Linked DNA regions of Homo sapiens. The protein of the gene in region 1 interacts with the protein of each later gene in a pairwise test. Each region holds a gene or a part of one and is shown in the gene's direction. Other genes may lie near its edges.

Evidence for each region. The genes of interacting proteins can lie anywhere in the genome.
Region 2: the proteins of CUTC (region 1) and SLC27A6 interact in a two-hybrid assay, tested with the Homo sapiens proteins (one large-scale study listed by BioGRID).

What each region holds. Positions count from the first base shown.
Region 1 is NC_000010.11:99,745,652-99,749,309, forward strand, and holds part of CUTC (copper homeostasis protein cutC homolog), read left to right. Parts: intron 1-1,605; coding exon 1,606-1,739; intron 1,740-3,658. UniProt on the Homo sapiens protein: May play a role in copper homeostasis. Can bind one Cu(1+) per subunit.
Region 2 is NC_000005.10:128,985,830-128,989,487, forward strand, and holds part of SLC27A6 (long-chain fatty acid transport protein 6), read left to right. Parts: intron 1-2,770; coding exon 2,771-2,929; intron 2,930-3,658. UniProt on the Homo sapiens protein: Mediates the import of long-chain fatty acids (LCFA) into the cell by facilitating their transport at the plasma membrane.

The sequences.
Region 1 (3,658 bases):
ATTGAGACCATCCTGGCCAACATGGTGAAACCCCGTCTGTACTAAAAATACAAAAATTAGCTGGGCGTGGTGGCGCATGCCTGTAATCCCAGCTACTCGGGAGGCTGAGGCAGGAGAATCACTTGAATCAGGGAGTCAGAGGTTGCAGTGAGCCGAGACCGTGCCACTGCACTCCAGCCTGGGCGACAGAGCAAGACTGCATCTCACAAACAAAAAAAAGTAGGTTGGAAGTGAAACTTCATATAGTCTGTTGAAAACAACTACCCTTATGCTATGAACCTTGAGTATGTGGGGTTAATAGATTAATCCAAAATATTAGTCAGTAATGAGAATGTGAGCCAAGGCTTTTTCTAGAACTGGTGAGTACAGTGTTTCATTCTACCTAGTCCAATATTTCTGAAGCCTTAGAACAGTTTCCCAAATTTGACTCACCTGCCTATCACATTTAAAATTTTACCATATATGAGTGCTACCTGTGCACATTTTTATTTAATCATTTTCTTTAAATAAAATCTTAAGTATGCACCCATAAAAAAGAACAAGATCATGTCCTTTGCAGAGGCATGGATGGAGCTGGAGACCATTATCCTTAGCAAACTAACATAAGAACAGAAAACCAAATACCACATGTTCTCACTCATAAGTGGGAGCTAAATGATGAGAACACATAGACACATAGAGGGGAACAACACACACTGGGGCCTTTCCGAGGGTGGAGGGTGGGAGGACAGAGAGGATCAGGAAAAATAACTATGAGTACTAGGCTTAATACCTTGGTGATGAAATAATCTGCACAACAAACTCCCAAGACACGGGTTTATCTGTATAACAAACCTGCACTTGTACCCCTGAACTTAAAAAAAAGTTAAAAAAAAGTAAATTTATTTTAAATAGAAACTTTTATAATTACTTTATATTGAAAACTTTTCATTTCTTATCTGCATTTAAGTAAATATACTATTTAAATGTGTACCATTATTAAAATGATTATGCACAGTGGTATGTAGACTGTGGTGTGCTGATGAACTGGCTCCTAGAAAAAAGAGCCCTGATTTGTAGCATTTTTAAATTTCTGTGGTTTAAATACTCTACCTTCACTGAATTTTTTTATTATTATTAATTAAATTTTTATTTTTCTTTTGAGACAAGTCTTGCTCTGTCGTCCAGGCTAGGGCACAATGGTGCAATTGGCTCACTGCAGTCTCGACCCCTTAGGCTCAGGTGATCCTCCCATCTCAGCCTCTCGAGTAGCTGGGACTATAGGTGCACACCACCATGCCCAGATAATTTTTGTATTGTAGATATGGGGTCTTGCCACATTGCCCAGGCTGGTCTCAAACTCCTGCGCTCAAGTGATCTCCCCACCTCGGCCTCCCAAAATGCCAAGATTATAGGCACGAGCCACTGCACCTGGCCCTACCTTCACTAATTTCAGGCTGCCAGTGGATTAACAATCTGACTTGCAGAATTCTTGAGTGTTTAATAATTGGCCTTTGTAAGCCAGTACAAGCTAGGTCCAGCATGCCACTGCATGTATACTACATTTTGGGAAACTCTGCGTTAGAGATACCTGTTCAAAATTCACATCAGTTTTATTTATTTCAGCCTTTGACATGGTTCATGATCCAATGGCAGCTCTGGAGACCCTCTTAACCTTGGGATTTGAACGCGTGTTGACCAGTGGATGTGACAGTTCAGCATTAGAAGGGCTACCCCTAATAAAGCGACTCATTGAGCAGGTACGTGGACTTTATCTTTTTTTCCCCTAAGACTCTGTTGTGGTTACTCCTGACATTCTGCTGTTTAGCCAGTTTGTGAGACTATATATTACTGACTTTGTGGTTACTCTGTAGGAAAAGCAAGCAGGCAATAATGTATATAATTCTTATTTCTTTCACACAAGCCTTTTTAATAACCAAGGCTTTCAAGATCAAATTACATATAGATAGTGCCTAAAGATCTGATCTAACTTGGATAAGCACAGCAAATTTTACCTTTTCTCTGCCATGGGCATTGCAGTTTTTTTTACTTTTTATTTTTATTTTTTAGTTTAGATATAAGGTCTTGCTGTGTTGCCCAGGCTGGTCTCGAACTCTTGGGCTCAAGCCATCTGCCTTCCTTGCCCTCCCAGAGTGCTGGGATTACAGGCATGAGGCACTGCGCCCAGCCAGCATTGCAGTTTTAAGCCACATCTTTTCATTGTCAGCCCATGTATATTCAGGGGATCCCATATAAAATTATCATCTGGAGGTAAATTCCAAAACTAAAATTATAATCTTATTTCTTCTCATCTGTCAATATAAGAGGAAATATATTTTTCTATTTTATGAGTTTTCCTGGTGAGCTAGCATCATTTGTAGAGCACTCAGAAGGTGACTTTGTAATTAATAGTATGTGTATTTTTCTGATGTCAGTCCAGAGGCATTATAAGTTAGTGAGTACAGACTTTGAGATGAGAGAGTTGAGCGTTTGAGACTCGGGTTTGATACTTGCTATGTGATGTTGAGCAGGTTAATAGTCTTTAAGCCTCTCTTTCCCCCTGTGTGAAACTGAGATGAGTTTAATACTTATTTTAGAGTTTCTCAGAAGATTGCTAAAGATGGGATGTGTTAGAGGCTTAGCACAGTGGTTGGCATATACTAGGTCTTAATAATGTTAGGTTCTGTTATTACTGCTATTATTAATAATACTAATGTTCCTGTGTAGACATCTGCTTATTTTCACTTTTCTATAGCCATGAAAATAATTTTCAGAAATTTCTCCTAAAGATCTGATGTGACTTTGCTATTCTGGGATGTAATGGTTTCACAGACATTTATTAAATATATATTAGATGCAGGACATTTGTACTGTGGGGGTAACCAAGGGCTAAGTGTCTGTGTGTAGTCACTATCCTTACAATTTAGTGCAGAACAGGCACTTCTAATAGAGCAGGCAATTTTAATAGAGCTCTATTTTTAAAAGGTACTATAGGAGTACATTGGAGAGGAATTAACCCCAAATTTGGGGAAATGAAGGTTGGCAATAATTAGAGGAAGCTTCCCAGAAGAAAAGACATCCAGACTGCAGTGTTTTACTCATTTGAAGGATGTTTGGGAGTTATCTGTGTAAAAGTTGGGGGCAGTGGGAGTGAGGGTGAAGGGGATGTTGGTGGAATTGTTCCATACAAAACAAATAGTATAAGCAAGGGCTATAAACAAAAGCAAGCATAACTTAAAACACTGAGGAATGGCCAGAATATTGAATGTGGACAGAATGATATCCAGAGCCTTGAAAACCTTATTAAAGTATTTATTTTCATGGTGCAGCGGGGAGGCCTAAAGTGTTTTAAAATAGAAGAGTTGATGAGTCAGGTTTCCAGTTTTAAAAGGTTACTCAGTAAGGAGTAGCAAATAAGATATAACCGCCATAGTAATGTATTGCATTTCAAAATGTGTATGTGTGTGTGTATGTCTGTTATTTGTATGTTAATCTATTGGTTAGTAGGAAGAGCTACTCAAATATTCTCATACATTAACTTCACTGAAGTAACTACCTAGTAGTGTAACATACTAGTTAAAGCATAGGCTTTGTGATTGGACAGGTCTGTGTTTAAACCCTGGCTTTGACCCTTACTAATAGTGACCATGGATACATTACCTAGCCATCCTAAACCTCA
Region 2 (3,658 bases), on another chromosome or scaffold:
CCAGGTATACCGGCAATTTAAGCACCTGTTGCTGGCTCTCCTGATTTTGGTCAGGGTAATTGAATCATGTGACAAACAGGAACTCTTGAAGGCACTGCAGGTTTGGACTAAGATACAAAATAAAATCAAGTAAATAAGCTTTATTTTAAGTAAACAACAGCAATAACAATAATAAAACTGCCTGAGAATTCAAAAGAAGGGCCTGGCACAGTGACTACTCACACCTGTAATCACACACTTTGGAGGCCAAGGCAGGAGGATTACTTGAGGCCAAGTGTTTGAGACCAGCCTAGGCAACACAGTGAGACCTCATATGTACAAAAAAATTAAAAAAAATAGCCAGATGTGGTGGCATGCACCTGTAGTACCAGCTACTCAGGAGGCTGAGGCAGTTGAATCATTCTATCCCAGAAGTTCGGGGTTATAGTGAGCTGATTGCACCTCTGCACTCCAGCCTGGGCAACAGAGTGAGACTCAGTCTTAAGAAAGAAAAGAAAGAGAATTCAAAAGAAATGTTAAACTTAATTGATTTCTAGGAAAAACTGAATGGTATTAATGGTAGCCTAAATAGGCTTTCATTATTAGTTTGAAAATGATTGTTGATTTGACTTAGACATATTAAGAGTATTGTTACTCATTTCTTGTGCATAGGTTGTGAGCAACTATTGCATAGTAAAATTTTTCTTACATTTTAAAAATCTATTCAGTTCCTAATTGTAATCCCTTTTAGACTGGAGAATATAATTTTTTTTTACATGATTAGAACAGTTTTGATAAATGAACTGAAAAGTGCTAATATGTGTGTGGCTACTCTGTCCAGACTGAGGGAGCTTCTTTCTCAGATTGTTCAGGCTACCTAATCAGGTCTATTGAATAATAACAGGTCTAGAAGTTGGCAGATTGAACAGATACACAGTCCCTTAGGACAAAAGGAATGGAACTAGAGATGACAGCTACAAAATTTTAGAAAAGGAGGTGATGACTGAGTGTGGTGGCAGACACCGCAGACCCAAGAAGCTGAAGCTTATGGTGAAGCCTTGAAGAAAATTCATTTGCCCCCACCAAACCCCAGAAAGGCTCAGAAATTGGGTACCAGGTACCTCAAAGAGTAGAAAATAAATGTGAAACTATAAGCAGGAAACTTTATGGGAAGTTTGTTTAAGAAGGAACTATAGTCCTGGATTGCTTCTTCCACCCTGATAGAAGTCCTGAGACGTAATTCTGGAAAAGATGAACTTCTGAAAATACCAGGAAGAACAGAGGTTTAAAAAGTAGGGGATATAAAAGAAAGTCTCCCTCCCTATAAATATGTATATATGTATATAGATAGATATACATATATGTATATGTTCTCTTTAATATATATAACTTCTTTTAATACTTGACTGTTTTAATCTTTGAGATTCTTGTCTGAGGAATCTGAATAGCCCACATGTAAAAATTGAAAGACACTGATCATGATGGATTCCCCCAACAGAATGTCCTGGACAGTGAAACCAACTAGTAAATAAGTATTCTTCAGACACAGAGATTCTAGTTAATATTTTGTTTGTTTATTTTGTGTTTTTGTGTCTGCACTTTTAAATATAAACTGATAGTCAGTAGTCTCCAGATATTTGAAAAAAATCCTCCTGAATATATTCTAGATTAGATTGAGACCAATACAAACGAAAGATAAAAAGGATGTTGGAGAAAACTGACAAGATAGAGAGGAGAAATTTTCAAAAAATTATTATTGTTAATATTCTGAAAGATGGGGACAAAAAAGTGTCAATAATATAAAAATAACATACTACAAAAAGAGGAATATTCAGAGAACATAATTGTTGGAAAATCTCTCAAAAAGTAAAGCAAAAGGTAAGAGAAGGAAAACAGGATAGGCAACATTAGGAAACCAGTGATTCTGTCCAGGAGGGCTGATCTTCAGAAAATCAAGAGTTCTAAAAATGAAAGGATGAACACACAAATAAATGTAACAGAAAAAAGCAATGGGCAAAAAGAACAGAAATAAGGAAGGAAAGAGAAGAATGGGGTGTGAAAATTATTTTGTTTTCAAATTCAAAAATATCTAGAACTATAAGACCTGAGTTGTTAGACTGAAAAAGCCTAAAAATTTCCCAGCGAAATGGATAGATGAGACTGGTCCCAGTAAAAGTCATCATGATATTACAGACTACTGAAAACAAATAGAAGATTCCAAAAATGAAAAAAAATAGAAATACCATGTTGCATCCAAAGGATAAGAAATCAGAAAGACTGATAATTGCTCAATATATATACTGGAAGTCAGAAGATTATAGAGCAATGCCTTCAAAGTCCTGCGTAAAAATGACTACTTACCTAGAATTCTTTACAAGCAGCCATTCAAGTGTATAGGTGGCAAAAAAAGACATTTTCAGGCACATAAGGACTGACAAAAACTTACCTCCCAAATGCTCTTTATCAGATAGCTACTGAAACCAAATGTGTGCTACCACTGTAATTAATTTCTAGAATCTTAGATCTATCCAGAAAGGCCAACGATAAAATTACATAGCGTTTGAGATACAGGCCTACTTAGCAGCCTGTCAAAGGAGCGTTGCTAAAGTCAGAATGGCCTCTTTTACAAAGCAGATAGACTACTTTGATATATTTTCTGTCAATTGCTAGTGTAGTTGTTATCAGTATCATCTTCTTTCTGTTACTTCCTTTCTAGTTATATGAATATGTATGCATATGTATATGTATGTATGTGTGTATATATATTTCCTGTTCTTTTCTTTTCTTCCAGGTCTACCAAAAGCAGCTGTGATTAGTCAGCTGCAGGTTTTAAGGGGTTCTGCTGTCCTGTGGGCTTTTGGTTGTACTGCTCATGACATTGTTTATATAACCCTTCCTCTGTATCATAGTTCAGCAGCTATCCTGGGAATTTCTGGATGTGTTGAGTTGGGTAAGGCTTTATTTTCTTTTTGATAAGTTTTCAAAATGTCTAATAATTAGAACAAGTATTTATTAACATTTGAAGCTGTATCGGTAGAATTTAGAGTGATTATATGCATATTATTTTATTATAACACAATATTTATTTTAAAAAAACTACACAATTTTATGGCATATTCAGTGTTTTCCTGAGGTGAAAAGAACAGTTTTCTGAGGATTTGGCCATGTGGTCGGAGCTGGCTATTGGCTGGGCTTCTCTCTCCTTGTAGTCACTCACCCTCAAACAAACTACCCCAGATTCCTCAAATGTAGTAGAAATGTTCCAAGGGAGTGAGTATGGAAGCTGCATAAATCTTAAGGCCTAGTCTTGAAAGACACATAGGTTATTTTACCTTCATTCCATTGATCAAAGTAAGTCATGGGCCAGCCTAGATTCAAGATTCCAGGGCTGGAGAAACAGAAGCCACCTCTTGAAGGGAGAAGGAGCAAATTTACACTGCAAAAGTAAGAGCCCTGAAGAAATTGCTGAGGCCATCTTTGCGAACAGTCTGCCATAGACACTCAATAAATTAGTTGGTAGAGCTTGTGACTCAGTAGATTCCATTCATAAACATGCAAGATTATGTGTCAGTTTCTAGACCTCACATAATATACAAACAGTGGAGATCATTTGCTACTTGTATTTGTCTAAAATGCTGTAATTTTTAGAATAGAATATTTAGAATATGATCAATATCCA